Linked DNA regions of Homo sapiens: regions 2, 3 and 4 are each linked to region 1. Evidence: fine-mapped expression QTL. A gene starts in region 1. Each other region holds a variant in brackets. All regions are shown on one strand. Distances are between the middles of the regions. Region 1 holds the start of RNF182 (ring finger protein 182). Region 2 has its middle 60 kb from the start of RNF182. Region 3 overlaps RNF182 (ring finger protein 182). Region 4 has its middle 21 kb from the start of RNF182.

Region 1 (8,207 bases):
GAAGAAAAAAGGCCAGAGAAGACCACACAGAAACCTTTTATTGTAGATTTAAAATTCAAGAGTTTGAATAAACAACAATTCTTCAGTATAACTGTGCCCAACACATCACATGGTGATCAAATTATGTAAAACACCATGTCTGCCTTGAATGACTATAGCTATAGAAGAGGGAAGATGATTCACAACAGACTGATCAGAAACACAACTTCTCACTCAAATACAATATGTTGGCCAAACACACAGTTTTATTTTATAGTTCCATTGCCATCTTGATTATCTAAATCATGTACCTGACCAATTAGATAACATTTCTCATGTGGAAAAATTTTATTATTGGGCCTTAATTTGTGGTTTACAATGCTTAAAGTGCACTTAAACCACAATTCAAGAGAGTCACGTTTTAGTTAATTGGGAGGAAAAATGGAGGCAAGTGACCAGGACCAGCACCAGCAACTCTTTTGTAGGACTAGCCAGCCTCTGGAAATGGTCACTAGGTAAAGACCTCAGGTAATCTGCTTTAGAGTCTGGACCATAAAGTGTTAAAAGAGATTATTAGAGCCATCACTGTCCCCCAGCTTCCTGCCCCAGACTCCCTGACCCTGCCCTCCCAACCACCACCACCGCACCCCCACCCCTGCACCACCTTTGGCCACTATGCCAGCAGACTCTCAGTATGTATTGATCTCTTTAACACCTTTTAACTCACTGCTGCCTCTACCTCCTAGTTCTTTGGTTTTCACTTCAACCGATTATAAGATACAGAAGCAAGGATCAAGTTCAAAACATGTATGGAAATAAGCAATCACCTAACAGGATCCCAGATTCTACTATCCAACAAACCATGTCTATAAATACTCAAAATGCAAAATATAAAGATTATAATGTGTTTTTTATGCCCACTATTTTCTGATCAAATTACAAATTAACCAAATCATTTTTAAAATAAGCTCTGGAAATATAAAACTTTTTAAAAAAACATTACAAAATTAACTGGTAACTTTTGAAAAAAGGAAGGCTGAAAACAAAGGAGAGTATTTGGGTATCATACATTAAGAATTACATATAAAATAAATAATCCTAATAGCTGAGAAACAAGTAAGTCCCCAACTATAAGAGGTTGGTTGACTTTCATCAAGCAACATAGAATATATAGAAGGAAGCATTTGATAAACATTTGATGACTGATGTCCAAAACCATACTCCATAACTGCTACAAAAAATTGGCACATCAGGAAAACAATCGTTTATCTTGAACTATGTTTATATCACTTAAATTATGTACAATACTGTATAAAAGTATACATTTTCCCCAAGCACTTGTGGCTTACCAAACAGCTTAAGACATCTTATCTCCATTTTAATTGAAAACATGAAAAATGAAACACACGTCCACAAAAGTTTTTCAGCTTCTATCAATCACTATTAATAATCCATGTCACTAAACACCACAACCTATCACCATGACCATGTGTCTCCTGTGCCTTTTCTCAGCACAGTAGTTCTGACAAATACCCACTGTGCACAGCAGGTCAGTTAACAATACCTGATATTTACAGCATTTTGTCTTGAGGTCTCAGGGCCACACTATTCTCCCCAGCCACAAATCTAAATCTAAGTGTTTTGGTAATGAAGAAATCATTTAAAAACTACCATCCTTCACAAATGTGCTTTTATAAATGCTACAACACATTGCACTAGATGCTAAATTACCAACCAGTAATCATGTTATCACAGTGCAACTAGAAATTGCAAGAGAATGTTGACCCAGAAACAGTCAATAAAGGCTTCAGTGGCTTTATTTAGGCTGCCTATGCAGGCTTATATGGTTACAAACAACTGACTTTCAATGGCACAAACATAATGTTAATCCTAACTTAAACAGGAACATTTGTGGCTTTTTTTTGTCTTTGGATATGCTTCATAAACTGAATTACAGAATTCTTTCAGGTAGAATACAGCTATGGTGACAATTATCAGGCCATATTTTACAGCTTATACCAAAAATTAGGACCAATTTTACGTCATAAAATTAAAACCCGTAAGCTAAAATGCAGGAAAAGACTCCTACTCCCGTGAATCAGCAAGAGTGATGACTAGTATTTTACACCTGGGGATATGCAATGCTGTTGCCTGCTTCCACCAGGTGGCTAAACCATGGACAGAAAACACAATTGCTGTTTGCATTTTCTAAGGACATATTGCAGATATCATAGTATTTTTTCTTTCATTATCTGGTTATGCACATACCTCAGAACACTAGTAACACATATAAACATGCCAGATTATTGTTTTCCACTGCACTGACACAAGCTTCATTTCATGCTTCGGAGCTCTTATTAATAAGCCACTACAACCAAGCAGTGCATGCAATACATGATTGTTGATTTCTGTATACCGACTTTATTTTTTGGCAGAAAATGATGCAGCTCTGAAGAAGCCAAACTATATTGAATGTTGTGCCCGTGTGAGCTAGCAGCAAAGGCAAAGCACCGGTCCTTACTGTGCTAAATTCACCATGGATATCTCCGTTCTTCAGCACTCAGATTAAGGGCCACAACATAAATGTTTAGGCTAGAACTCACAGTGTGGGTTTCATCTGGCAGAAAGCACGGACCAAGTCCTTGAACTTGAATACTGGTTTTGCTAACAAAGATCTGAATAAAGCTGTTCTGTTGGTCCCTCAGGAAAAAAAAAAAAACACACACACACACACAAACACACAAAATAATTTATTTTTAGTACAAAACATAAAACTACATTCTCTGTCTATATAATGTGCCTAGGCTTCAATATCCTATTTGCTGTTCATGCTTAAGTGAGAAAATACTTTTCTCTCCCGTTTATCTTCTCAAAACAGATCTACTTCGTTTTAATCAATGTACGATTTTATTACCGTCATGAAAGAGTATTTAGCAGAGCATCTGTGAATCTTCCACAGGTAAAATTCAGTTTAAAAACAAGCCCAATTGTGAAATAACCTGCAAACTGTTAATTGCAACTTCAATCCTTTAGTTTCCAATACAATCTTCTAATGAAGTGGCATTACTTGAAGTTGCTGGCAAATATGAACAGACTGAGAAACCTAGTAATCAGCAGGCTAACAGGTGTTGAAATCCCAAAAGAGGGAAGAGGAATATTAAATAATCACTCTTTGCCTGACACCTCAAGTAGCTGTAATATGCAGAATTCCAATCAACTTAACTGCAATTCAAAATGATCAGTGGTACTGTTTTCATTAATTACTCTCTAGCAAAAATATAATTTCTTGCATTCCATATAGTTCTTTAAATGACCTATTCCAACTTATACATTATTTTACTAAGTTGGATATACAATTTTATATGTTAGATTATTTTCCAGTTATCAATATGACATCTCATATTGTTTAAATATGATTTAAAACAAATCTTATTAACATATATACAATTTCCTTCTGAATTGATCAACTGTATTTCTGAAAATGTATCTGTTTTCTTTCATATTACTACATGTAAGATGATGTCTAAGTACCAAAAAAAAAAGTCTTCACAGTCACAATTTAAATCTGTGCTTCGCGTCTGCAACAAACTATCACGAAATGATTGCAAGGGTTGGGGCCACTGAGAAAGGTACCTATAACCTATCCAGTGCCCCAGTGGCAACCGCATCGTGGTCCTCATCATCCCACTCATAAACACCGATGCAAACACCGCCCAGCTACCTGCCTCCAGAGGTGCTTTGGATTGCCTCCCTACACATAAAAACAAAAGGCACTTTCCAGTTCCTTACAGCATGAACACAATACCTTCTAGAAACAAAAGCAATGACCTCGGTGCCAAGTATCTCCTTGACAAAGTATCGGTACTGCTCTACATTCTGGTCTTGCTAGTCGGGGAAAGCCGGGCTACCCTTACCATCCAGTTATAGGTGCAACTGCACCTTCCAAAGAAAAAAAGGTCTTTCGATTCAATATCCAAACGAACTTCAGAAGCCTCCTCAAAATGCTTCAGCCACAGGCATAAAAATGGGCTCACTTTTCAGAGATTCGTAAAAATCTTTCGCTTGTCCCTCTTACTACCCTCCCAACCCCTCCTCAAAGAGAATGCCATGAAACATGAAAGTCCAAAGGTAAATACTTTCATACCTTTTTTTCCCCCAAAAGCCTCGATGGCACGCCAAGAAGGAAAATAACAACAACAACAGAGGGGCAGCTCCCTGAGCAGGTGCAGCCCGCGCGGGCGCTCCGCAGCCGCCCTCCGCCGCACAGCCCCTCAAGTTGGTGCCAGGACGGCGGCCCCCGTGGTGCCCGGAGGGAGACTCCGCGCGCGGGCCCCGGCGCCGCTCGGCCCGAAGTTTGCCGCCCCCTCTCCTCGGCGCGCTTGGGCGGCCCGGCGCCGTCCAGGACTGCGGGGCTGGCTGCTGCCCCAGCGTTGGGGAGGCCCGGCGTCCCGCCGACCCCTCCCCGGCCGCGGGCGCGATCGCCTTACCTGGCCGGCGGCGGCCCAGGGCCCGGGAGCCGCTCCGGCTGCGGCGGCGCCTGGGAGGGGAGGGAGGTTCCCGTGGAGGAGGAGCTCGCGCGAGGAGCTAGCGGGCTGGCGGGCGGGCGGCTTTGTCTCTACGGCGCTGAGCCGCCGACCCTGCGTCACCATGGCAACCGCCGGGGCCCCCCCGGCCCTTCCCCTCAGCAGTCCGGGTATTCGGAGAGGACAAGGACCCCCGATGGGCCGCCACCACCACAAACACGCCCCTCTCTCAGTCTCCCTCACAAACCGCCTGTTTCTCCCCAGCGAGAGGGGAAGGCTAAAGCGGAGCGAGCCCAGGGCCAAGTGGTATTCGCATCCTAGTAGGCACTCCTTTGCTTCCCCACACTGGACATTCCAACTCCCGTCGCACCACCATCCCCCCCACAGACACCCTCCACCACTACCACCACCACACCTTTCTCCTGTGGAGCTGTACCCTCAAAATGGAAATTCACTTAAGGGAGGAGAAAGAGCAATGCAAAGTGATAAAGTGTTGAGCAACTGGTACTCGGTTCTCCTGTTGCAACTGCCGCAGCATGCACGGAGCTGCCAAGGGACGCCGTGCCGCCTCCTCCCTCTCCCCCTCCTCCTCCTCTCTCTTTTAGCAAGCTTTGCCTCTGCTGGATGTGGTCTCACTCCACCCAACCCGTGTATCTGTCTTGTTGAGGGCTCCCGTAGGAGAGAGGGGAAAGGGGGCTTTATCTCTGATGTAAACACTGGATACACTTGTAACCTCAGAAGCTGAAACACAACTTTCAGGCTGCAGTATGGATCTCAGCTGCTGCCACACTGCGCAGCTACTGGCTGTGACCGCTAAGCATCTACCATGAGCCCTGAGTGACTCTGTGCCAAGGACTGGTCACGTACTGCAGGCCATGGCACTCAGGAGCAGAGAAAAGAAAGCTAACTTTTTCCTCTCCTGAGGAAATTCTTAGAGAGGGAGAGAAAAGTACCAGCAGACCCTTGGTCATGCTTCCTCTAAAGGACGAACTAGAGGGCAGCCTCCATGGGGGGAGTGAGTCATCCCTCCATACTGTTTTCTTGAAAGATCCGTTGCTGAATCCAAAAGCTACAGTGTCTTTCTTCAAACCCTGGGGAACATGACATTTATTTTTTGGCATTTGTGAATCACCAAAGGAATGTCAATGATTTATAATAAAATCCACGGTAGCTGATGTTTTCTGGGTTTACTACTTGAGAAGCCACAAAGCAGAACAATGTTATTGCCATTTGAAGGTACACCTATATTAACTAATGAAAAGATAAGATCTATTTCATGGTGGAAAAGGAAAACAGTTTGTTCCTCGGAGAGACTGGCCACTTTCTTGTAATGGGAATATTCTGAATGAAGTCAATAATATTCCAGATGAAGTCAAAAGACAAGGTCTTTTTGGCAGGCCATTAAGCATTTGGCAATACCTGCCAGAATTCAAAATGCACATACATTTCTCCCAGCTATCTCAATTCTAGAGATCTGTCATACAGAAACACACAAATGTGTAATGATAGATATAAAAGGATATGCATTGCAGAAGTTTTGTAATAGTAAATGTTTGAAACAACTTATATGCCCATCAATAGTGATATGGTTAAATAATGTGGCACTTCATACCATGTAATACTATGCATCCATTAATAAGAATAAAATATATAAAATTCATAGATATTGATTTCTTATTAAATGGAAAAGGGGGGCTCAGAACCGTATGTGTGGGTGATCCCATTCTGTACAAAAAAACTGGATATATAGGAACAGAACAAAAACATAGGGATAAAGGTCTATAAGAATGCCTACCTAATTGCTAGAAGTGGTAACCTGTTAACTACAAAAAAAATTGAAGGGACAGTTACCTCTTACGATGTACAATTTAGTACACATATTTGGTTTGTTTGGCTTTTTCAAATGAGCATTTATTAGTAATTTATCAATGAAGAAGCAAAAACAAAAAGCTTTAATAAATGTTTGTTGACCTGCATGCACATTACTGCCTGATCAAAAACTGAATACAGAACAGGGAGGGACCATTGACTTGGCCATCCCTGCCCTCAGCTGAAGGCTTGGAAAAGTCCACGTTGTGTCCCCACTTAGAGCATTGCTTAGTGACCTGGTCCTGCGTTATTCTGTGAGACATTCTTCCAGACATTCATTTTTCCAAAAGAGGTTTAGCTTTATCTTAAGGTCTGCTTCCATTCTGCCTCTTGGAGAAAATTAAAAGACTTGTCAGGAAACCATCTTAAAATGTGCCACCTTACTTACCAGGGGATATCATTTGAATAGGTTAAGTGGCAGCTTTTAGTCTGTTTAGCTAAACTGAAACTGAAGATACTAAAGCTTAAAAATTAATGTGTGGATACATGACTAGTCTTTCTTATTCTCACCATTTTTGAAATGAGGTTAAAATAATGAATTTGCTTTCCTAAAAAGATCTAGAGCTGCACAGTCTAATTCAGTAACTGCTAGCCACATATGAATTAGCTACTGAATTGGTATGTTCAGTAAGTGCAAAATACACACCAGATTTCAAAGACTTGGAACAATAACTTTAAAAAAATAATATCTTATTAATAATGTTTATATTGGTTACATGTTAAAATATATTTTGAATTTATTGAGTTAAATAAAAGATGTTATTAAAATCATTAACTTTTGTTCCTTTCCACTTTTTTAACATGATTATTAGAAAATTATAAATTATATATGTGACATTTTGGACAGCTCTGTTTTAGAATTAGTGTTTATAGCAAAATATCATTAAGAAATCTAAAGTTAGCTATTCTTCTTAACTTTTAGTTAAAATGTAATTACCTTATTAATGCTCCCCAACTCATAAAGATGCCACAGTATGGCAATTTCTGTTAAATAATTTCAACTTATTAGAATCCTATTATATGCAAGCATTAGCTTATGCTTTTATATTTTAGAAAGATTTTAGCACAGACACTAAAGTCAGATTACCTGGACCTGAATCTCAGCTCTGTTTATCAACTACATGACCTCAGCAAGCAATTTAATACATCTGTTCCTCAGTTTCCTTACCTATAAAATAGGGATTATAATAATACTTACCTCCTTGAGTTGTAAAAATTAGATGCTTGATTGTCTACAATGCTGAATAAATGTTAACTATTATTACTTTTATTATTATACTTTGTTGGTTCTCTCACTTTTTTTTTTTTTTTGAGACGGAGTCTCACTCTGTTGCCCAGGCTGGAGTGCAGTGGCACAATCTCCACTCACTGCAAGCTCCTCCTCCCAAGTTCACGCCATTCTCCTGCCTCAGCCTCCCGAGTAGCTGGGACTACAGGCGCCCACCACCACGTCCGGCTAATTTTTTGTATTTTTAGTAGAAATGGGATTTCACCATGTTAGCCAGGATGGTCTCAATCTCCTGACCTCATGATCTGCCCACCTCGGCCTCCCAAAGTGCTGGGATTACAGGCGTGAGCCACTGTGCCTGGCCAGCTCTCTCACTTACTCTACTAACCTTCAATTCAAGTTAGTCTATATATGTATATATAAATCTTTCATCTATATATAGAGATAAATCTCTCATTTTCCTTTAAATGGTCTGATTGGAACTGTAACTGAGTCATCAAAAGTTCATTCTTTTTACCCTTGAACTGACTATAAAGTTATCAAAATTAAAGAGATATTTTGATTCAAGTTAGTAAAATAAACCAGAAATTTCAATAACAAGATCAGCA
Region 2 (8,207 bases), 60 kb before region 1:
CTGAAATCAGATTAAACATGAAAGATGAGAAACAGGATAAGAAACTCAGAGGATCAACTCAGAAGGTTCAAAGGCTGATGGGCAGGAGTTCCAGAAACAAGAAGAAAGGAAACATAAAGAAAGCTATTTTGTAAAAAAATTAAAAAAATTTTTAAAATGCAAGAACATTTCTAGAACTGAGGGACATGAGCTTCCCAATGGAAAGGGCCTATTGAGTCCCTAGTAAAACAAATGGGGGAAAACAGCTGCACACTAATTTTTTTATTGCGACATTGTGGAACACTGTAGATAAAAAGAAGACCCTAATGGTTTTCAAAATGGAAAAATAATGACATACAAAGAATCAGAGATTACAATGCTCATTGTGAACTTTTAGAACACTGTGGAGAAAAAAGAAGACCCTAATGGTTTTCAAAATGGAAAAAAAAAAAAAAAGACATACGAAGAATCAGAGATTAGAATGCTAAATAACTCCTCTGCAGCAAAGTGGGGATTGAAAGGCACCAAAGCAATGAGGGAAGATGATTTCTAACCAAATCATCGATCAAGCTTAGGGCTAGAGGAAAGACATTTTGAGATGAGATCAGGCACGTTCAGAGTGGTATAGCTGTAGACGGAAAGATATTTTCAGACATGCAGGGTCTTAGCATTTTTACCTCCATGCATCTTTTTCTCCCAGCAAGCTAGTAGAGAATGTGCTTTCTTGTCAAAAAATGAATAAACCTAGCAAAAGACGGCAAGGGACTCAAGAAAAGGGGATCAGAGAATTCTCAGGATGCGTGGCTGGCAGCTGTGCAGAAAGTAACTAATCTGGATTAAATCAAGAGAGTGAAGGGCTCCAGGAGGGCTGTCGCCATGAGAGTAAACTGGCACATTATCTATCACGTTTGACAGAAAGGAAAGGTTTCTTCAATAATCATAGACTCTGGGGATGCTTCAGTTATACATACAAAGAAAACTAAGCAAATTCTAAAATGAGGCAATTAATTCCAGGGAAAACAAAAAGTTGTATATGAAAGAAAATGTATTCACAATACACTAGAACCTCAGCTATGAGTGATATTAGATAGTCATAACAATCTAAACACCAAATGTTGATTTTACCAAGAATTGTGATATAATTATATTGGGAACATGTAAGAAGTGAAAGAGTGTGTGTGTGTGTGTGTGTGTGTGTGTGTGTAGGGAAGGTCATAAGAAAATTAAGTCATTTTCCACAATAGAATATCGATAGATAATGGCTAAAATTGAAAAAAAATTAAGAAATTATCATATAAGTACAATTTTCAGAAATATGGAAGTAAAGAGAAAGAAATATTTAAGAGTAGAAAGTGGTTGCCCTTAGGAGGACAGGGAAGGATGGTTCAGAGGCACCTGTTTTTCATTAAAAGTGCTTAATACTATGTAACTTTTAATACCATGAAGATGTACAATTTTAATAAAAATAGAAGTTACTTTTTTGAAGAGCTATCAGTCCCTCTGAGAAAGCAGTTTCAGTGAAGTTGTAAAAGCCAAAACGCAAGCCACTCGAGAGCATGCATGGGTGATGAGAGCGAGTGAGTGAGAGGACGGCGTCGGGACCCATCACCAGAGTGGAGGTCCATGCACTGAGGGAGCAGGGCATGCAAACATCATCTTCCTGGATCTGATCATGATCCCAGGTACCGAGGAGGTCAGAATGTCATAGGGTGCTCTTTACACGATGCAGTAAAATTGCCTCAAAGATGATTGCAACTATCCAGGTAAGGGTCTAGATTAGGGTGCTGCACAGGGTAAGGAAAGATTATGTGAAAGCCTCCTGATTCTGATCATTTGTCACTCAAGTACTGACCTCTCACCTCAACGCTCTTCCTTTCCCTAATGACTACAGCCGTCTGCTTGTATATGATAAAGCTCTGTGTCTGCTTATGAATAAGTTTTCACTTCTCACATGCTTTGACCTTACTTCTCGAGAACAAAATGGGATGTTGAAGAATGTAGGTGATTATTTCATATCCTCATTACATATTTTTGTAGCTAGACATAGCTTCTAAGCATAAAATAATCTCTGTCCCACTGCATATTTTGTTGTCCATAAAATTCAGTAACCCATGTGGGAAAAATAAATTGACGGCTATTGACAAAGAGACAGGGGAGTGTAGGGTAAAAAGCAGACTGGGACTTCAGTGGTCCTTATTAGAACCTATCTCTCGCCTTTGTGAGAGGGATCATTTCTAAGTGTTGGTTTCATCATTTAAAACAAGGCAGCTTATAAGTGTGGGTTTAATCATTTAAAACAAGGCAGTGTCTACGTGTTGGTTTGATAATTTAAAACAAGGCAGTTGGCCTCTGATATATAAAATCTTTCCAGCCCTAACGTTCAATGACCAAAACTTTAAAAATCTGGTACATGTTTTCCAACAGTTGGAATATTAGGTCTATTCTGAGAATTAGCTGTGGAAGTTTCATAGGCTCAAAAAATAACTAGCACTTAATTATTCCACTTGAAATCTCCTTCTACATATATTTAGATATTTAGTAGGGGCTAGAGACAAAGCTTGAATATGTCATTCCATGAAAGTCTGACAAGAATTGTTCATTGTAAATTGTTTTATGTTGGGAACAAGTGTAGGGATCAATACTCCTTCACTATCCATGCTCCTGGTGGTCTGTTCCTTTGCCCCTTTGCACTTTGCCACTCTCCTGGGATGCACTGCCTAATTGTGACTTTTTGACTGCCTTTTAGATTCATGCACTGGTTTCGTGATTTCTGTCTGCCTTCAGATTCTATATTATGACTTTTATCAATTCTGTATTGCAGAGTTCACAAAATATGCTCCACAGAACACTAATTCCACAAAATATTAATAGATGTTTTGAGAAAGATTTCCATGGTTACATAGTTTGGGGGAAACATTGGATTGGACTGCTAAATAAGTTTCTTTAACCAAATGACTTCTCAGGCCCTTTCCTGCAGCAACACTCATGAGAATCTCTAAAAGAAAGATGCATAGGCACAGCTTCTGAGCAGGCACAGCCAGGAAGTCCTCCTTTCCTGGGCCAGCTACTGAGACATGTTTTATGTCATATATTTTGAAACTACTGCTTTAATCAGATACACCTTGGAAACATTATACTTGTCTTTATATCCTTCCAATGAGTTGTGACATGTATGGATATCTTGTCAAAGAATCAAGAAATATTTATATGTTATGCATCATAAGTAGTCAATATTTGAGTTAAAATAATGAATCTTTAGGTTTCGTATCAAAAACTTTGGCAAGGTTCCCATTTGGGATATAAAGCTGTAAGTAGGAAAGAGGGTTGTCTTCATCCATTTTTGCATTACTATAAAGGAATACCCGAGGCTGGGTAATGTATAAGGAAAAGAGATATGTTTGGCTCACAGTTCTGTAGGCTGTACAAGAAGAATGGCACCAGTGTCTGCTCAGCTTCTGGTGAAGTCCTCAGGCTGCTTCCACTCATGACAGAAGGCAAAGGGGAGCCTGTGTGTGCAGAGATCACATGGCCAGAGAGGAAGCAAGGGAGAAGGGGGAAGTGCCAGGCTCCTTTAACAACCAGCTCTTGGGGAACCTAACAGAGCAAGAACTCACCCTCTAGCAGGAGAAGAACGGCACCAAACCATTCATGAGGGATCCACCCCATGACTCAAACCTTTTGTTAGGCTCCACCTCCAACATTGGGATCAAATATTTAACATGAGGTTTCGGGGGACAAGTAAGTATCCAAACTATATCAAAAGTCTGGTAATTAGCAGTGCCACCTTCCTCCCGTTTCAAGGACAGAATTTAATATTCTTTGGTCTCCCAATGACCACTTCTCCGTTCTCCACTCTGGCAACAGAAAAATCCCACAAAAGTAGGGCATATTGTTTATTCCCTCTTAACTGGTGATTAAGAGTTGGTCAAATTATAGGCTAGAAATAATTTCATAATTTTTAAAATTCTAACCAACAATAAAATTTGTAATGACAGTAAATTTAACCATAGAAATACACAGTTCAAACTGGAATCTCTTGGAAAAAAAAAAAATCACATCAGGTCAGGCGTGGTGGCTCAGGCCTGTAGTCCCAGCACTTTGGGAAGCCAAGGCGGGCAGATCACGAGGTCAGGGGATTGAGATTATCCTGGCCAACATGGTGAAACCCTGTCTCTACTAAAAATACAAAAATTAGCTGGGTGTGGTGGCACATGCCTGTAGTCCCAGCTACAAGGGAGGCTGAGGCAAGAGAATCACTTGAACCCAGGAGGCGGAGGTTTCAGTGAGCCTAGATTGCGTCACTGCCCTCCAGCCTGGCGACAGAGCGAGATTCCGTCTAAACAAAAACAAAACAAAACCAAAAAAAACACAAAAAACCGTCAAATGGAATCACTGTCAACAACCATTCCATCATTTAGCT[A/G]GGAAAAATCTCCATTGCTCAGCTATGGTGAATATTGCAAAAGAGGGCACAATTACCTCTGAGACAAGCAGCCGAATCCATTGTTCTACAAGAAGTCATAAATGTAGTTGTTAGTCATCACAAAAATATTTTAAAATAATACTTAAATGGATAATCCCCAGCTAGTGGAAGACTAATGTGGTTCTCTTTCACAGAGCTTTGTTTCCTGAAATATAAAGCGTGTGTGTGTACAGGAGGTGTGGAGGAAGGTGGCAGTGACTGCGTTAGGTCACTAATGTCCTAAGTGACATTAAAGAAATCAGAGGAAATGGGGGAAGAAACAAAGAGCGCAGGAGGTTTTGGCTCAGCACATAGCAAAAACAGATGTTCATTTATTGACTAATGGTGTTATGTGGCATTAAAAATAACATTTCATAGCTAAAGTGTCACTTTAACTCTTTTGAAATGCTATGTTAAAAGATGAGCTCTCTTATTTGTAGGCACGGAACAATAAAAAGTTTAACTTATTCGGAACTACTGAGAAGGATTTACCATTAAGCCAACTCAGAATTATCTGACTTTAGTCCAGTATACATCTGTTAACCAAGACATAATTCGTGATTGGCTCAACCAAATTGGGACTGTATTGGCAAGAATTAGGGGCAAGTGTTAAGTTTAGAATTACACAGCATATATGTACTAAAAATAATGCTTACTAAAAGTTTGAAAACATTATCTAAAGACTACAGAATTTATTGTATGACTTGATAGATGCCCTGCATGCATTCTACTTGCTGCTATGAAGAATGAAAAAGATCTAACAACAGGGAGTGGATATACAGAAAAGTTCCAGCAGAGTATCAAGACTGGGAACACACAGTGAATGCTGTGGAGGAACCCACTGCCTGGCAGGGATTTTAAGAAGAGATGAAATGGTCAGACAATAGGCAAGAGGTTATTCTGGGCAAACAGGATCACTCTGAAAAACAGACTAAATTACTAGAATAACAAGGAAAGAGAGCTGTCTAAAGCAAAGAATTTAAGATTTGACAAAGATTGAGAATAAGGAGTACATAGTCTTCAAGGAAGTAATGATTCAGCAGATGAACAGAGAGCTGCCTATGAAATGTTCAACAAGAGATTGGTTGAGAGTGGACAGTTCAAGGCTAGAGTCCAGTGAATTATTTAAAGGTTAAAAAAAGGTACTTCACAGATGATTTGGGCTTCTTTCTCCTCTGAGATCATAGAAAGTACATTGGAAGATAAAAGATTGTGATTTTCATTCCAGTTTATGCCTTCAATAATTGGGTAACTATAAAGATGCATTCAAACCTTAAGATTTACTGAAGCTTTAGACAAGGGTTGGCTCCTATGGTTCTATTTCCTCCATTACACAGCTGACAGTCGAGGCGGGAGTTAGTTCTCACTAGAATAACACTCCAAATCTTTGGAAAACGAAGTACCTGTAGTTGATTCGTGCAAGGATCATTATTGGCTGTTAAAACCATCAGGTGAAAATTGTTAGGGAAGAGAATATTTGCATGGATCCAAAGTGTCACCCCATGGATTTTTTTTACAGTTGCACAGGGGAAGTAGAGACCACCTTAACTGAGTGATCAAACTGAGTGTTTTGAATGGGAGGGCAACCTTTCATTTTATGCCTCCAAATGTGATGTGATACAAAGGTGACTAAGACAACTTGTTGCCCAAAATCTGAGTCCAATCAAGCTTATAGATTTTTGGCTTACAGAAAATACAGGTAACAGAAATTAAACACCACCAAATACAGAATGCGGGACATCATACAAGGTAACTGGTTTGCTTTCTTCAAGAAGTCAAGGTTATGGGGAAAACAAGGTGGGGTGACTATTCCAGAAGGAGAGAATAAAGATATAAAAAAATCAAAGGCAATGTGTGAGACTAGACCAGATCCCGGTATTTTTTTTTTATTTTTGTTGGTTGAGTTTTTTTTTTTAAGTTACAAAACATATTTGAGAATAGAAAAATTTGAGAAAAATGTATACAAAATGATATTAGAAAGGTATTTTTAATTGTCTGAGATAATATAATAATGTTTTAGTCAAATTAGAGGGAAGTTCTTTATTTTTAAGGGTGATAGAAAACAAATATTGCAAAAGGTTAACAATTGACTCTAAGTGATAAGTGTACAGGTGATAATTATTCTATTTTCTCAACTTTTCTGTATCTTTGAAAATCTTCGTGAAATAAGCTTGAAGAACCTTTCTTTCTTTCACCATCCAATCTACTTCTGTTGTGTTCACCCAATCATCCTAACTCCCCCCTCATCCTTGCTCCCATGACCACTGCCTCTGGTGTCCATTCTCCCCCTCTGGTTGCACCATGACAGTGGCTGTGCCCACTGCCCTACTGAGCATTCAGAGTTATAGCCTGGAGAGCTCAGCCTCTCAGTCCTCTCTGGGCCTCAACATTTCTCTACCCCCTCACCTTCAGCTGCTATTGAAATACACTGTTGGTGGAAATATAAACTAGTACAGTCACTAGGGAGAATAGTACAGTCGCTGTGGAGAATAGGATCCTCAAAAAACTAATAAGACTGTGATCCAGCAATCCAGAGCATTTATCCAAAGGAAAGAAATCAGTGTATGGAAGAGACATCTGCACCCCATGTTTACTGCAGCACTGTTCACAATAGCCAAGATATGGAGTCAACCTAGGTATCTAAGAACAGATGAATGGATAAAGAAAATGTGGTATAGTACACAATGGAATCCTATTCAGACATAAAACATAATGAAATCCTATCATTTGTGGCAACATGGATGGAACTGGAGGACCTTATGTTAAGTGAAGTAAGCCAGGAACAGAAAGTTAAATACCGGTGTTCTCACTCATCTATGGAAGCTAAAAAAAAAAAGTTGTTCTCATAGAAGTAAAAAGCAGAACAGAATACCAGAGGCAGGCAGCGTAGAGGGAAGGGAGAGATGGGGAGAAATTTGTTCAAGGATACAGAATTACAGCTCGATGGGAGGAGTAAGTTCTAGTATTCCATAACACTGTAGGATGACCCTAGTTAACAATAGATTATATAGTTTTAAATAGCTAGAAGGAGGATAGTGAATATTCCCAACAAAAAAATGAAAAATGTGTGAGATGGCTATGCTAATTAGCCTGATCTGATCACTATACATTATATGTATCAAAACACCACTATGTACTACATATATACAATTATATTTCAATTTAAAAATCTTAAAAATAGACTATAAAAAAGAAGAATTGCTAAAGACTCCCAAAGCTATGTCTTCAGGCCAGACCTCTTATCTGGGGTAATAAGAATGTAAATGTAATGTGAACGTGAATGTACAAAGAAACTTTCCTTACACTTCATGCGAAAAACAAGATCTAAAACCACCTACTGTCAGAGCATATTCTTTCTCCTGTGAAATTCCAACCTTCTCAATTTAAAGTGTTAATATGTTACAAATCTAATAAACTCTTAATTAAAATGCTTGTGACTTTTCAGTTAATTGATGTTTTAATTAAATCAAGGTTTAACACTTTTAAAAATACATTAGCACAGATCCCTACTTAGTATACACAGTGTTCAGGATGTAATTTAATTTTTGATTCTTTTATTCATAAGCTTAAAGCACCTTCATGTCAGAACCATAAATGTCTGCACACTGAGTATATGCAGATTTGGAGTCTACCACAGTATGAAATGATATCAGGAACTGGGTTGAATCTGTATTACCTCCAGGACTCATTTGGAATTTACTCAAATTTCAACATTCACATTTTTTAAATCTCTCTTACACAAAAATAAATGTGTAAGGAAAGACCCAAT
Region 3 (8,207 bases), 39 kb before region 1:
TATTTATTTATTTATTAGTGGCCTTTGTGTGTGTGCATTCTTTTTTATTTGGTTCTTTTCTCCTCCACCAGTATCAGCCTGAATACCACCCCAAATGAAATCTTAGAGAAACTTTACATCTGTACTGAAAATTAAATTGGTCTCTAGACTTTTTTGTGCTGTTAGGTTTTGGTATTAACTGTATGCTTATTTTATAAGTGAAACACGAGCTATTCATCTTCTGGAACAGTTTAAATACTGATAAAATTATGTGTTCTTTAAAAGTTACATAAAACTCAGCTGTAATTTCATATGATTCCATTGTCATTTGCAGTAGTAGATCTTTAATCATTTTTCCATCTCTTTTAGGGTTACTGTCCTATTCAAATGTTCATTTCTTCCTCAGTTAAATTTAGACATTTATATTTGACAAAGAAAAAATCCATTTCTTCTGGGTTTTCAAATTCATTGCTGTAGAGTTCCGCAAATTCTGTTATCGTCTTTGCATCACCTCTGCCCCTGATTGTTTCTTTTCTCACTTATAGTCTTCTAAATTGTTTTACTCCTTATTAATTACCTAATCAAACTATTTTACTGTGCTTTTCAAAGACCAACTAATATATGTATTTATCCTTTCTGTTACTTTTAATTTCATTAATTTCAGCTTTTATCTTTATTATTCCCTCTAATTTATTTTTGTTTGTTATGATTTTTTTCCCAATTCATACTAAGAGTACACTTTGTCTTTATGCTTAAATACTGAAAATAGCTAAAGACTATAGTGTTTCCACTGGCTACAGCTTTCACTCTATCCCATAGCTTGTGGAATAGATTGTGTACCTTTTATTGATTTCTAGATGGCTTGTGATTTGACCTTTGATTTCTCCTTTGATATAAAGGTAATACAGGGCCAGGCATGGTGGCTCACGCCTGTAATTCCAGGAGGCTGAGGGTAGAGAATCACTTGAGCCTTAGGAGTTTGAGACTAGCCAGGGCAATATTAGACTCCATCTCTATTTTTTAAAAAAAAATTAATAAATTTTAAAAAGGTTATATACTTTTCTTAAATTTCTAAATAAAATTTATTTTTTATTGCCATATGTAATTTCTAATAGTACGGGATTATGATCAGAGAACAAAATCTATAAGAAAATCTTTTCCTTTTAATTTATTATGGTGCTCTTTGTGGTAAAGTATATTTTTCTAAGTAGTCTAGAAAGAAATATTCTGTGTGGTTCTAGAATACCTATTAAACCTAACTTTTTAATTTATTCAATTTCTGAATCATCAAGGTATGTGCAAGGTTATCACAGGTCAAAACAAGTGAGAGAGGTTTATTTAAGTGTCTCACTATAACTATATTTGCATTTCTAACAGTTTTGTTTTACAGAGTTAGTGGCTATGTTAGCTTACATATACAACTTTATTTTCTTCATAAACTCTGCCTCTTTTTGTCATTATATAATGTCTTTCCTTATCCTATTTATGCCTTTAACTTAAATATCAACCTTTATACCTTATCTAAAGCTTATATTACTTGTTCTATTGACTCCGCATTTGCCTGGGATGTATGTGCATCCTTTCAACTCCATCTTCAATTACTTTATCTCGAATGTTTCTTATAAACAGCTGCCAGAGATGTGGTACACAGCCTGTAATCCCAGCACTTTGGGAGGCCAAGATAGGTGGATCACTTGAGCCCAAGAGTTGGAGACCAGCCTAGGAAACAAGGCAAAGCTCTGTCTCTACAAAAACATACAAAAATTAGCCAGGCGTGGTGGTGCACGCCTGTGGTCCCAGCTACTCAGAAGGCTGAGATGGGAGGCTCACTTGAGTCCAGGAGGCCGAGGCTGCAGTAAGCTATGATTGCACCACTGCACTCCAGCCTGGGCAACAGAGAGAGCATGTTTGAAAACACACACACACACACACACACGCACGCGCACACACACAAAACAGCATACTACTGGGTTTTACTTTTTTTTGGTGGGGGGGTGGGGGGGTGGGGACAGGTTCCTGATCTGTCGCCCAGGCTGGAGTGCAGTGGCATGATCTCAGCTCACTGTAACCTCCACCCCGCGGGGTCAAGCAATCTTCCCGCCTCAGCCTCCCAAGTAGCTGAGATTACAGGTGTGCGCCACCACGCTTAGCTAATTTTTGTATTTTTAGTAGAGACGGGGTTTTGCCATGTTGCCCAGGCTGGTCTCAAACTCCTGTACTCAAGCGATCCACCTACCTTGGCCTCCCAAAGTGCTGGGATTACAGGTATGAGCCACCATGCCTGACCTGGGTTTTGGTTTTTAACTCAGTCTGACAATTTTCCAATTAAAACATCTAATGAATTCTAAAAATTTGTGAATTTTCCAAGTTCATTCACCTTTAATGTAAAGGCTGTTATATATTAACTCATTCTTTCCTCCTCACTTGATTTATTTGATTCAATTCCAAATATTTCCCTCCTGTCATCTTCCTGTATCTCAAGGTCTGTGTTTCTGGTTAACTTTTTGTTCAGTTACTTTTTCTTTGTATTATTGAGTATCTTTGTCAGAAAATAGGTGATGATATTTCTAAATTCTTATGTAGTAATAAATTTCCTCCTGACAGGGAAATGTATGGGATTTTCTGGCTGCTGTCTTTTTTCTCTCTGAAACCAACCCAGTAGTCCTATAGACTATTCTTTTGTATAAACATAGATTGCCCTTTCTTGTCTTAAAGCTTAAAACTTGTATTTGTTTTATCTGAGCTCCGTCCTCAGGAGAGTACTTCCAGTCCACTCAAAAAAAAGTATCAAAGAACTGAAACTCACCAGATCACCACACCAGATCCTTGAGGGGCCCCTCACTGATCATGATTGCTTCCTTGCCCCTCTCTAGTTCCTGTTTTCTTATACATTGTTACATTTCTGCCCTGCTATATAAGCCCTCGGTTTTAGTCTGTCAGAGAGATGGATTTGAGAAGGATCTCCCATCTCCTCAGCCCCAGCACCCAATTAAAGCCTTCTTCCTTGGCAATACTCATCGTCTCGTGATTGGCTTTCTGTGTGGTGAGCAAGTAGGGCCTAGACCAAACCCTTGGTATTTTGGTAACATCTCCATGGCCTGCAGAAATTACTATTTCTAGTTTTCTGTGTCACAGATGAGAAATCTGCTGCTAGTGTGATACTTCTTCATGGTAAGTAATTTGCTCTGTCTAGAAGCTTCTAAGATTTTGCCTCTTATTCTTAATATATAGTTCAAGAACTTTTCCAATAAATCCAGAGTGTCTTTTTTCATAAATTTTGCCTGGAACTTAATAAGCTATTTGAATTTACAGACTCAAGTCCTGATTTTTAAGCTCAAAAAATTTGTTTCTTATATTTACTTAATTATTGCCTTTCCTCCATCTGTTCCTTTTTCTCTTTCTGGCTTTCCTGTTACTCACATGTTATATTTCCTGGATCTATTTTCTTTTGTGGTTTCCATTCCTTTATATTTTTGTTCTGTACTTTCAGATTCTTCTAGCTGACCAACTAGGCTACCAAATCAAGCCCCAAGAATGATCATTATCACCTTCAGTTCATTTACTAAAATGT[T/C]TGATGGGGAAATCATGCATTTCATCTCTAGAAAGTCTTCTTGTGCTGCATCTGCATCTCCTTATGTGCTCTTTCTATTTTTTGTCAGGTTGTCATCTGTCTCTGGCTGCCGCTCCATCACATTCAGCGTGAGTTCTGTCTGTTCTCATAGACTGCCTTCCCTTTGGCTACAGTGCCAATATTTTTCTTTGTTATATCACTGGGGTTCAGGTCTGATTGTTGAAGGACCCATGGAACTGAAGTTCTATGAGTAGGGTGAAACACAATGGTCTCTTCTCCTGTGATCTAGCAGTGTGACAGCAGGTGGGCTGCCAGGACCCTTCCAAGGTCTCCTGCTCCAAAGGACGCACCCAACTATGGATTTTTCTCCTTGGTCTCTTGTGGAACACACACACTATGGGGTGAGGGTGAGTTTCAGTTTTCCTCCCAGGAGTCCCCACCCTCTGTAGGTCAAGTTCATCACAGTATCCAGTGCATCCTGATCTTCTGGTGGGACTCATCAAATGGATGCCAGCCCTCGGTACCAGCCAAGCCTAGGAAGGAATCCCCCATCTGCTCCCCACTCCCCACCCTCAGCTTTCACAAAGCTTGGGGTTTCACTTGCACTCAGGGGTCTGCTGGCTCCAGGAGTCGTTGGGATCAGGAAAGGCAGATAGAGTAGAATTGAGAGAGCAAGATAGCAAGCCACTTTAGCTTGCTATCTTTCAAGAATCCTTGCCAACTATAATTCCTGGAGTTTTTCCCAAATATTTACCTAGATGGAAAAATGGAAATTTGTGATAAAAGTTTAATTTGGGCAGAACATTGGCAATACTAAGCATGTTCAGCGGCTATTACATAAAGATATGTACCAAACTGATACTCATCCCTAAGTTAACTGTTTCTGAAATTCACTTTTTAGAATTCTCCTTTTTGCATATTATTATTTTTTACTTCCTCTATATCAAACTGTCTCATTCTAAGAATCCATAAACTGGACACTCAAGGGTATGAGAATCATTTTCCTTTGCCTTTGGCTATCTTTCCTAAATAATGCCTTTCAAGTTCTACCTTTTAATTCAAAGACCTGTATTTCTATATACTAGTTAGATAATGATTCTTTTTTTTTTTTTACATTTTAAAAAATTCGTGTTTTTCTTAACTGAGATTGTCTTGAGTCTTTGCTGTTTGGATCTTGAACTGTTTTTGGGTCTTCTTCCCCACTTTTTCATGATATTACCCTTCAATTTCAAATTTTTTAATTTATTACTAAACCATCTCCCCTAAATACTCTTTGCCCTAGCCCCTATCATGTGTGGCAACTTGTCTGCAAATATGGCTGCAATAATTCTCCACAGACCTGTACAAATACTTTCTACAATGTGATCTTCTTTTCATCTGATCAACAAGTAGAGGAATCTGTTTTTCCCCACCCCTTAAATCTTGGCCTTGTGACTTGCTTTGACCAACATTAAGAGTGTGAAGCAAATTTCTGACCTCAGGGTGTCTTGAAGCTTCTGCTCTTGCTCTCTTGGAATTCTGAGACCACCATCAAAGAAGCCCAGGCTAGCCTCTCTGAAGATGAGAAACCATAGAGAGAAAGGCCCAGACAAAAGCCAGCACCAACTCTAGTCATGTGAGACCATTAGAGACCATCCAGCCTCAACTAACCACCAGGGACAACACCTGTTTGAATGAGTAGCACCATGAAAGAACAGCTGAAGAATGTGCCCCACTGAGCCCAGTAGAAAATGCTGAGCCACAGACTCATGAACCAATAAAATGGCTGTTGTTTCCAGCCACTAGTTTTGAGGTGCTTTTGTAACAATAGATAAGCAAAATAGCATGCTATTTCTTTCCAAATTAATCCAAAGCCAATCTCTGCCCAAAGAAATTATTTCCCTCATTTATCAATGAGTATCATGCCTACCTAGAAGACTCTTTTATGAACTTTGAAGCTGTCCAATCCATACATCTTGCAAGTTCTGTCAGTCAAAATACAGTTTCTATGTATTCTTCCATGCATAAACTTTAATAATTTGTATTATGATAACTTCTATTAATTCAAGTCTTTTTAAAAAGCTCAAAAATTTTAGAAACACTGCATAAGCTCTACTACAGTAAGGGGAAATTATAATTCCCACTTAATAGGCATATGAACATCCATTGAAGTATCTTTCCTAAGATTACATAAGAAGTCAGGACAAAAAAAGTCAAAATAAGTAGAGCTCAAAAAAACAAAACAAAAAACAGAGCTGTCACTGTGATCCTATTATCTATCCAGGGCTCTATGCTATGTATTACTCCACTGTCCATATGAATTAATTGTATAGGTCTTAGGGTAAGTTGAGTTTCTTCAAAATATTTCATATACAGTTTCATGTAGCCTGAATCATTCTTATAGAATCCATCAACCATTTTAATGCGGCATCAACAGGAGAGATTATATTTTTCCCCTTATGAAAAGACAACTGTCAAATTTCAACTCTCATTTCCAAAATATTCCTCCCATCCTGGAAAATAAATGTTGTAAACACTGCTTTCTAGATGATGAGACAATATATTTTAAATGGCTCTGTAACAAGAAAACTGATAGAAGTTAAGGTATTGTCATTTTCATTAACTATGGTTTCTGTTTTTATAAATGGTGCTAAATACCTGCTTCTATGTTCAATTTATTTTGTGCAAAATGGAGAATCACTCTTCAAACACTTTCACTTCTTGATTATCAGTTTCTATGATGTCTTAAATTCTTTGACTAATAACTCTATCTTCAAAAACATATGAGAGATTCTAGCACTTGTAGCATCATTTTTCTTTGTGACTATCAAGGCAGAACATTGGTTTTTACGCTCAGCTATTGATAAAGTACACATGCTTGCCATCTCTCTGACACCCAATTGCTCATTCACAAAACCCGATGTTCCTAACCTCATTATTTATGGAGCTTGAGTCTCAAATTAAGCTTAAACCACACATGTGGCATCTACCTCCAAGAAAGTCCAGTTTTTCCACCTAGAGATTCAGAAGCTGGATTCTAGTTAGAGCTTAAAAGACTCTCATTACTGTTAATAATTACTAACAATAATATGTTGGCCTCAGTCCCAATTATCAGTTATCCCTTAGTGAGCATTAACAATAGTTGAACTTTGTAGAGACGATGGTCTCAGAATTAAGGGTTTTACTATGCCTTTCATTAAAAACTATGCCTTTCATTAAAATGCCATTCAAAAAAATCCTTCTCACTATAATAAAAGTCTCCAACTCAAAAATCCTAAAAAGAATAGGCTCAACAAATGCCAAGTACTCATTCTTGAAGGACCATCAGCTGACTCTAGAAGAATTTAACCCACAATACCCATAACCCCTAATGGTTGTTTGGCAGCATAAGGAGCAATTCCAGAAAGCCTCCCTCAACAATTAAAACTCTTACCTCCCCCCTCCTCCAAGAACATGCAATTTAATTTGATGGAGAGTCATAATCTATTTATTAGGATACAGCCAAGTTAATAACCTAGCAATCTAAGTTATTAATTTTGGAAGAGAGGCCACTATTTTTATATATGGAGTTGTGATTTATGCTGTGCTGTTTGCCAGCAGTTTTAAACCAATAAATGTTCAGGAATAAGAGAGAAAAAAACCAGGTACTCCGCACCCTATATTTAGGTATCCACATCTGCTTTCTTCTTCAAGACTCTGGAAGTGCAGCCAGGAGTATGACCATCCCTTGCAGGCAGTCTACAATGGAAGCACATAGCATCTAGAGTCAGGAGACCGAGATTTGGGACCTGGCTCTGACACTGTGATCTTGGACTAAAAGACAACACCTGCCTCACAAAGTGGTTGTGAGGATTCAATGGAATCATTTAGGTGTAAATACTTTACATACATAAGCACTATATGGATGCGACTAGAAATTTAGAAATAATGGATCCATTGATATGGTACTTCAGCATTCTAAATTGGTAGTAGACAGAATATGCATTGAACACAGTATCAGAAGGTATACAGGTTTTCTGTCTATAGATAGAGCAGATAGTAAGTACAGCAAGTAAAGCACAATTTACCAATGTTGTAATAACTTCCGCTACCTGATAAGCTGAGAGGGAAATGTCATTATTTCTCTTTTGTTTATATTATCTATATGGAACGCCAACAAATAATATATAAAGCTCATAAGTCTAGGTTTTTGCTTAGTACCTTACTCTTTATTTGGAAGATGCAAACAAAGATATAATTTAAGATCATGATTAATAAGAATATGGCCTGAAAATTAGATTATTAAGAATGACTGAATCTTCTTCCATTAGACTAATTTCTTTCCTATTAATTTCTTCCTTCATAATTTCCCTTGGCCAAAGTTTAATAAAACTCTCTAACCTTATCAAGAAAAACTAAAATGTCTAAAGAAATTAGCATAGGTTATATGTACCATTTCTACAATTTCAAACTTAAGTAGATTATTTTGATGCCTATTTCACTAAATGTAACTAATACTGTACATCACATGCATGTGCACGCGCGCACACACACACACACACACACACACACACACACACACTCTCTCTCTCCCTCCATCAAAAAAGTACATATTACTCCCAAAGCCATGGCTGAAAATCACCAACTGTCCTTCATCAATACATTTGTGATTGACAGAAAAGTCGTCTTCAACTGCTAT
Region 4 (8,207 bases), 21 kb after region 1:
TTTATCTGGTGTGCCAATTTTAGACAAATGTAGATAAAAGTCTAGGGTAGGTCGAATAGAACAATGAAAAGAGAAAATGGCAACTTAACTTGGAGATATGGAGGTAGATGACCTATGCACATAATTCTTAAAACATTCAGCATATTTCTGGTTGTTATAACTATCTCTTAACTAGGTATGAGATCTTAGAAAGTAGAAATTATATTTTATTTATCTTTGTATACCCCACAGCCATTCTATTGCATGAAATTTAGACAATAAATATTTGTAGAAATCTAGTCGATCAAATTTATTTTGTACTACTATGTGCCAGTTGCTGCTCTTGATGCTTGTTCTGGGCATTGTTGCAGGAGGAAGGTAGGAAGGGAGGGAGGAAGGGAATGAGGAAGGGAGGGAGGAGGGGAGGAAGGGAGGGAGGGAAGGAAGGAAGGAAGGAGGGAAGGAAGGAAGGAAGGAAGGAAGGAAGGAAGGAAGGAAGGAAGGAAGGAAGGAAGGTAGGTTGGTTTGTTTCAGTGTGTGTTGAAATGATGAGTTCTAAATTTAGCCATAATATAAGGCAGGAGAAATAGTACTTTGTTGAATAGATAAGCTCAAACAGGATCTTTCGATTTGGCTAATAGTCTGCCTTGGTGCAAGCCTGCATTACCAAGAAAATGCAATGCATAAAAGCTAAACTTAGTTGGTTAAATCCAAGCAGATCAGTTGATTACTTTCAGTTAAGGCAGGTAACAATGTCACCTTTGAGAAAAATAAAAATAGATTCTCATCTATGTTATTGACACTTGTATTTCTAGAACCCAGAAAAGTTCTTGCCACATAATCCTCAACTAATATCTATTGAATGAATATTAATATCATAACCTCCTTCTAGAGGCATTGTCTAGCATACTTGTACAAATAAGGCTTTCAGAGAGATGGAACGACCCTCTCAAGGTTGTTTAACTAGAAACTAGTTGAATTCCAACTGGCATCCCAATGTTTGATTTCTGAGATTCCAAAGTTGGTCATTAGACCAGATCATGTTATACTGCTCAGATCTTGATTCTGGTCTTATTGATGCAAATAAATGCAGAGAAACAAGTATAGTGAATCTATAGCCATGGCACCTGCCTTTGCCGCAGAGCCTCACTCTGTCCACCTTCTGTCTGATGGTATCTGAAGGGTTCCATGATAATCACTGAATTACATAACCACCCAAATGAGATTGTTCTTCCATCTGTTAAGGGCCATCAGAGCCCCCGTGCAATGAATTTCAATTTAAGGAGCTTTATGTTCCATCTGGAGCAAGAGGATTCATTCCTATATAAGAGGAAAAGATCACTGTGATTTTAACCTGGTTTTAATGACAATGACTCAATTCAAATTTAAAATTTTAAATGATGTTTCAATATTGTATGTTTCAGCACACTGAGAGAATCATCTTGCCAACAATTTCCAAAGTCACATTTTCACAGCAGTAAATGCTCATTAAACCATATATACATGAACTCTCATTGCAGTATTGTCTGTAACAGGAAAAAACTTGGAACAAGCCCAACTGTCCATCAAAGATGGGATAAAAAAAATTGTGTTATGTTCATACCATACAGCTATTAAAAAGAATGAGGTAAATCTACATATGCCAGTGTGACAAGATGTCAAAGATATCACAATAAATGGAAAAAAAAACAAGATGCAAAACGCCATGCGTGTTTTTAATACAGAGAATGACTGCAATAAATGTCAGTATATGCATATCAAAAATTTTGGAAGAATATACAATAAACTATAAACAGTAATTACATTGGGAAATAACATTATGGGATAATTTCACTTTATTTTTTATTTTTTGAGACAGAGTCTTACTCTGTCACCCAGGCTGGAGTGCAGTGGAGCGTTCTCGGCTCACTGCCACCTCCGCCTCCCTGGTTTAAGCAATTCTCCTGCCTCAGCTTCCTGAGTAGCTGAGATTACAGGCGCCCATCACCACACCCAGCTAATTTTTGTATTTTTAGTAGAGACAGGGTTTCACCATGTGGTCAGGCTGGTCTCGAACTCCTCACCTCAAATGATCCGGCTGCCTCAGCCTCCCAAAGTGCTGGGATTACAGGCATGAGCCACTGCGCCCAGCCTCACTTTAAACTTTATACATCTCGGCACCATGTAAAATGTTGACAATGATCTGTAATTTAAGAAATGCTTGTTTTATTTTGTTTTAAATATAAATAAGTATAATAAATAAATTTAAAATTAGAATAATTAAACTGAAAGTTTAAAATGACACTTTATATGTAAACTGAATATGATCCTTTTGGAGAAGTACTGTGTGTCACAAGCATTACAAATGTTTATATTCTTTAGCCCAGTAAACTTTAATACAAAAAAACTTTACTCATGAAGATATTTGTTACATTACCGATATAATGCAAAAAGTTGGAAGCAAACCAAATTATTAATAGAAGAGTTAAACTGCCATTTGCAATAAAATATTATACAGCCATTCAACATTGTGATAATATTGTGACTATGAAATAACATGAAATGCTTATAATGTCAAGGATAAATGGAAAAATATAAAATTAAATATTTAAATATGCTTGGTAAATATCTCAATGGTAAAGAAGACTATGAAATAACATTGTGTTCATTAAAAAAACTGTGTTATGTTCATACCATACAGCTATTAAAAAGAATGAGGTAAGTCTACATATGCCAATGTGACAAGATGTCAAAGATATCACAATAAATGGAAAAAAAACAAGATGCAAAACGCCTTGTGTGCCTCTGTTATAATGTTAAGGATAAATGGCAAAATATAAAATTATACATTCAAATGTGCTTGGTAAATATCTTAATGGAAAAGAAAATAGAAAGAAATATACCAGCGCTAAGTAATATCGTTTAAATGGTATCACTCTTGGTTATTTTTCTTCCTTACACATTTTTATACTTTCAAATTAACCACTTACTACATTTGCACCAGAAAAGAATGTAATCATTGATGTTGATGAGATATTAAAAAGAGCAACATTTTTTTAATCACTGGCCAGACATATAAATGTATTCACATTTTTTCTTTCATTTGACCCTTGGCTTCGTGTTGAGGAAAGGTGTGTTCCAAGCCACTGCCACTAGCTTTTCTGCTGTTCTGGAGCAACCACTCACCTCTCACTCGGTTTCTGTGAAATTCAACTACTTCATTAGGCTGAATGAGAGACTGAATAATTTATAAGAAATAAGATTTCCACAAAAGAAGATAGATTCTTCTTATGACTAAGCTTTAGCTTCACAAGACAGCAAGAAGTGATTGTTGGGGGGATCAACAATTTCCACATCAAGAGAATTGAATACCAGTCACGAGGCAGACATCTCCTTGGTGAATATGCTTTGTGCCAGTTATTTACTTCTCTATTTTTTCAGTGTCTTCACCTGTGAGGGTACTGTGTTGAACAAGAATCTTAATTTTAGTCTTAGAATTTTCCTAAAATGAAGGAAATGGGAAGTATAGTGAGGTATCTGCTGTGTGCCAGGAACATACTAGATAGGTATATTACCTTTAGTTGACATAAAAGAAATTAATATTCTAAGAGAGTCAGAAGTAGACCAAGGTAGTGACAAAGTTAAGATTTATTCCCAGGGCCAGGAGAGGTGGCTCATGCCTGTGATCACTTTGGGAGGCTGAGGTGGGTGGATTTCTTAAGCCCAGGAGTTCAAGACCTCATCTCTAAAAAAAAAAAAAAAAAAAAAAAAAAATTAGCTGAGCAAGGTGGCATACACCTGTAGTCCCAGCTACCCAGGAGGCTGATCACCTGAGCCTGAGGAGATTGAGACTGGTGAGCCACAAGCCATGATCACGCCACAGCACTCCAGCCCGGGCAACAGTGAGACCCTGCCAAAAAAAAAAAAAAGATTCAGTCCCAGGCCATCTAACTCTTTCTACCAAACCACTCTTACTCTTTAGGAGTTTGTAGGTTAAGGACATGAAGCTTCAGAGGGCTGAATGATTTGCCCAAGATACACAGCAAGCTAGCACCAGAGTCAGGGCCAGAACATAGATCTCATGAGGCCAGTTCTGTGTTTACTTTCTCTTTTCTCCATTTTTTGTAAAGTTCCTTGTAGTCAATTCATAGTTCATGATCATAAATC[A/T]CCTGTATTGCCCCTCTTCCGTTTTGTTTTGTTTTAACTTTTCCCCCTCATTTTCTGTCCACACTGTGTTGCCTTCCGGGGTTGTTTCTTGATCTGATATTGCAGCTCATTAATCAATTCTTCAACTACTGTATACACTTTCCACTATGTATCCCATCTCTCAGGTCGATTTTAACCATTATTTTTAATATAATCAATATCTCCAGCATGTGGTCCTTTATAACTTCTTATCTCTGCATCATCACAAATATCCAATCACTTCTTTGAAGTTCTTTTTGTGCTTATTTTAAATTCTTGGTCTATGTGATTATTTCTGGTTCCTACAGCAATACGACAGGACGGGCAAGATATGCTGCAGTAATGAGCAATCCTGGAAATTTCAGTGGCTCACACAACAAATTTTTATTTCTCACTCACAGTTGCATGGCTTTCCTTGCTCTCTAGCAACTGTGACCCAGACTACTTCACATTACAACTGCACTGTCTTAAAGTTCTTCACTGCAAGTCACAAAAATAGTAGCAAAAACAAAAATAAAACACAGAGAACTCACTTCTACACACATCCCATTAGCTAGAACTAGCCAAGTGGCCCCAAACCAACTGCAAGGGAGGCTGGAACGTGGCAGATGAGCACAAAAGCATTTGGTGAGCCCTCATTCTCTGCTTGCTTCGCATGTTGTTTCTCACTGTGCCATGCTCCCCAGATGTCCCTCAGCTCATTTTCCTCACACCTTCACGTTGCCCAGAAATGTGGATCTTGTGGGAGGCCCTAGCATATGGCACTCTTGTTAGATTTAAGGAGGGCAAGGACATGGCCCAGGACAAGGTAGAAAGACCCCTGAATCATAATCTGAGTTTGTTTCATCACTGTCTCCTACACACACACACACACACATACACACACATCCCTTCTTCACTGCCCCGTCTTCAGCACAATCCTGACCTTCAGACAAGCTTTTTGTTCTCCAACCCAGGCATTGCTCTTCAAGATAAATTTCCCCCTGATTGTAATCATCTACTGCTCAGGGTGTGGAGGGGGAACAAGAGAGGAAGGAACGCTCACTAGTGGACCCATCAGCCAGCTCCACTGTCTCCCTGATGTTATCTCTACCCCATGTCCACAGCACGGAACGGACACTGCTGTTCATCCCACAGGTGGCAAGCTGTGAGTTTCCCAAGGCAATAGAGCAGGGGGAAAAAGAGATTGTGGTCAACTTCTCCCAAACTGATGCGCACAAATGTCTTCTGCCTCTCTCTCGTTTCTTCCCCCACCAGGTCCCATCCTCACTTTCCCGAGGGATGTCTCTGCTGTCTACTTTCTCAGACTCGCACGTGTCTTTAACATCTCTGCCGCCTACAGGGTTAGGCTGGGGCTGGAGGAGGAAACCGGACACTGTCAGAGGTCCCAATTTGTCAGGTACCACAGTCCAGAGCATTTCTGCAGCAGATTTTCCTTTTTTATTTTTATTTTATGTTATTGAGACAAGGTCTCTCTCGTCCAGGCTGCAGTGCAGTGGCATGATCTTCGTTCACTGCAGCCTCAACCTCCTGAGCTCCATCAATCCTCCCACCTCAGCCTCCCATGTAGCTGGGGCTACTGGCGTACACCACTGCGCCTGGCTAATTTTTTCTATTTTTTGTAGAGATGGTGTTTTGCCATGTTGCCCAGGCTGGTCTTGAACTCCTAAGCTCAAGTGATCCTCCCACCTCAGCCTCCCAAAGTGCTGGGATTACAGACATGAGCCACTGCACCCACCCTCTACTACAGATTTATTTTTTTTTTGAGACGGACTTTTGCTCTGTCGCCCAGGCTGGAGTGCAGTGGCGCAATCTTGGCTCACTGCAAGCTCCACCTCTCGGGTTCACGCCATTCTCCTGCCTCAGCCTCCTGAGTAGCTGGGACTACAGGTGCCCGCCACAACGCCCGGCTAATTTTTTTGTATTTTTAGTAGAGACGGGGTTTCACCGTGTTAGCCAGGATGGTCTCGATCTCCTGACTTCGTGATCCACCCGCCTCAGCCTCCCAAAGTGCTGGGATTACAGGCATGAGCCACCGCACCCGGCCTCTACTACAGATTTCTAATGCCTCCTGGGAAATAGATACAATCCCAAGATAGTGAGTTTTTACTAAGGAATAACAGATCTCTTTTTCTTCTTCTTCTTCTTCTTTTTTTTTTTCCTATCTTGGAATAAGGGTCCATGGGACTGGCACTCAAAATATGTTACTTGACTGTCTTATCCCCGTTCTTGCAATGAGGAAAACACTTCTCCCAAAATATGCAGCCCTCATGAGCATGGCCACCTCCAAGTGTATTCGATTATTCCTGGAAGAAGCCTGAACTCAGCATTGCCTCTTCTCTCTAGGAGTTGTTCAGATCTGGACAGCACTTAAGAGAAGGAGAAAGGAAGTCAGGCCTGAAGCTCACGGGCTGGCTAGATTTTCTGATTTGCACCCTGCCTGGAAGTTGACTTTTATATGTATAATTAAACACCAGGAAGCAAACAAATGAGACATTGTTGTCAGTGTTTTTTATATTACGGGAAAAATGTATATGATTTGCTTATGCTATATGCTGAAAATATCATAAAAATAAATATTTCAGCTCTAAACTTATAAGCCTAAATCACAGTTTAAAAGAAATTGTTGCTTCTCCAACCACTTAATTGTATCAAAACATATCACCAGAAAAGTGGAAAGGTAAAATTACTTTTTTTCCCCTCCATCCAACATCCCCACTGTAACAGACGCTGTTGGCTTCCTAGTTCAAAACCATTCTCTGCCCGTTTGTTCCTTACCTGCCTCAAATTATAAAGGATAAAAGCCTCAGAAACTTGCCTTGCCAACCTACTTTTCAGCCAGAGTAGCAGCTATATAACCCAGTTCTGGCTAAAGGTTTGCTCGTTGGGGGAACAGGGATTATAGGAAACACATTTTATCTCCCTTAAAAAGGACCTCTAATAAGAAGAAAGGACTCTGTGGGCCGGGCGCGGTGGCTCACGCCTGTAATCCCAGCACTCTGGGAGGCTGAGGCGGGTGGATCACGAGGTCAGATGATTGAGACCATCCTAGCTAACACGGTGAAACCCCGTCTCTACTAAAAATACAAAAAATTAGCCGGGCGAGGTGGTGGGCTCCTGTAGTCCCAGCTACTCGGGAGGCTGAGGCAGGAGAATGGCGTGAACCCGGGAGGCGGAGCTTGCAGTGAGCCGAGATCGCGCCACTGCACTCCAGCCTGGGCGACAGAGCGAGACTCCATCTCAAAAAAAAAAAAAAAAAAAAAAAGAAGAAGAAGAAAGGACTTTGCCACCCCTTCCACTTGTTTGTTACCTTCAATGTAGTCACAATGTCTGGAGCTGTTGTATTATCTGGCAACCATGAAGCAGCATAGCTTAGCATGAAAAAGCACATGCTTGGAACAGCAGAGCAGAACGATAGTAGGAAGTGTCCTTGAAGTGTCCTTGAAGACACTTGAGCTGCTGCACCAAATTTGGAAATGCCCACCCCCAAACTTCTTGTTAAGGGAGATAATTCAATACTTCGTAGCATGAGCTACTACTTATTGGTATTACGTTACTTACAGCCAAAAGTATTCCTAACAATATGTGCCCTAAAGTGAGCTGCCATTATCAAAAGGAGCAATACTGAACCTCTGTAAATTGATTTTAAAAAGGTCAATAGTCAGGAAATGTACTTGAATCCTTTTGACTTGAAAATATAGAGGCCAGGCACGGTGGCTCACACCTATAATCCCAGCACTTTGGGAGGCTGAGGCGGGCAGATCACCTTAAGTCAGGAGACCAACCTGGCCAACATGGCAAAACCCCATCTCTACTAAAAATACAAAAAGTATCCAGGCACGGTGGTGCACACCTGTAGTCCCAGCTACTGAGGAGGCTGAGGCACAAGAATTGCTTGAACCTGGGAGGTGGAGGTTGCAGTGAGCAGAGATTGCGCCATTGCGCCATTGCACTCCAGCCTGGGTGACAGAGTGAGACTGTCTCAAAAAGAAAAAAAAAAAAAAGAAAAAGAAAATATAAAGGAATAATTACCATTTTTACCCTGCCAACTATAAGCTAGGCAT

The links. PIP is the estimated chance that this variant, and not a neighbour inherited with it, causes the effect.
Region 2: its variant is fine-mapped to the expression of RNF182 in whole blood (INTERVAL, PIP above 0.99).
Region 3: its variant is fine-mapped to the expression of RNF182 in whole blood (TOPMed, PIP above 0.99).
Region 4: its variant is fine-mapped to the expression of RNF182 in whole blood (INTERVAL, PIP above 0.99).

The regions. Positions count from the first base shown.
Region 1 is chr6:13,921,283-13,929,489 of GRCh38, reverse strand. It overlaps RNF182 (ring finger protein 182), which reads right to left and starts at 4,538. Exons shown (of 3, transcript NM_152737.4): 1 at 4,467-4,538. RefSeq lists an enhancer at 5,143-5,643.
Region 2 is chr6:13,981,173-13,989,379 of GRCh38, reverse strand. No RefSeq gene overlaps it. Among named protein-coding and RNA genes, the nearest start is that of RNF182, 60 kb to the right of the region's middle. RefSeq lists a cis regulatory region at 1,475-2,097. The variant A/G (reference allele first, on the strand shown) is at 4,400.
Region 3 is chr6:13,960,540-13,968,746 of GRCh38, reverse strand. All of the region lies in intron 1 of RNF182 (ring finger protein 182), which reads right to left. Among named protein-coding and RNA genes, the nearest start is that of RNF182, 40 kb to the right of the region's middle. The variant T/C (reference allele first, on the strand shown) is at 3,551.
Region 4 is chr6:13,900,167-13,908,373 of GRCh38, reverse strand. No RefSeq gene overlaps it. Among named protein-coding and RNA genes, the nearest start is that of RNF182, 21 kb to the left of the region's middle. The variant A/T (reference allele first, on the strand shown) is at 4,126.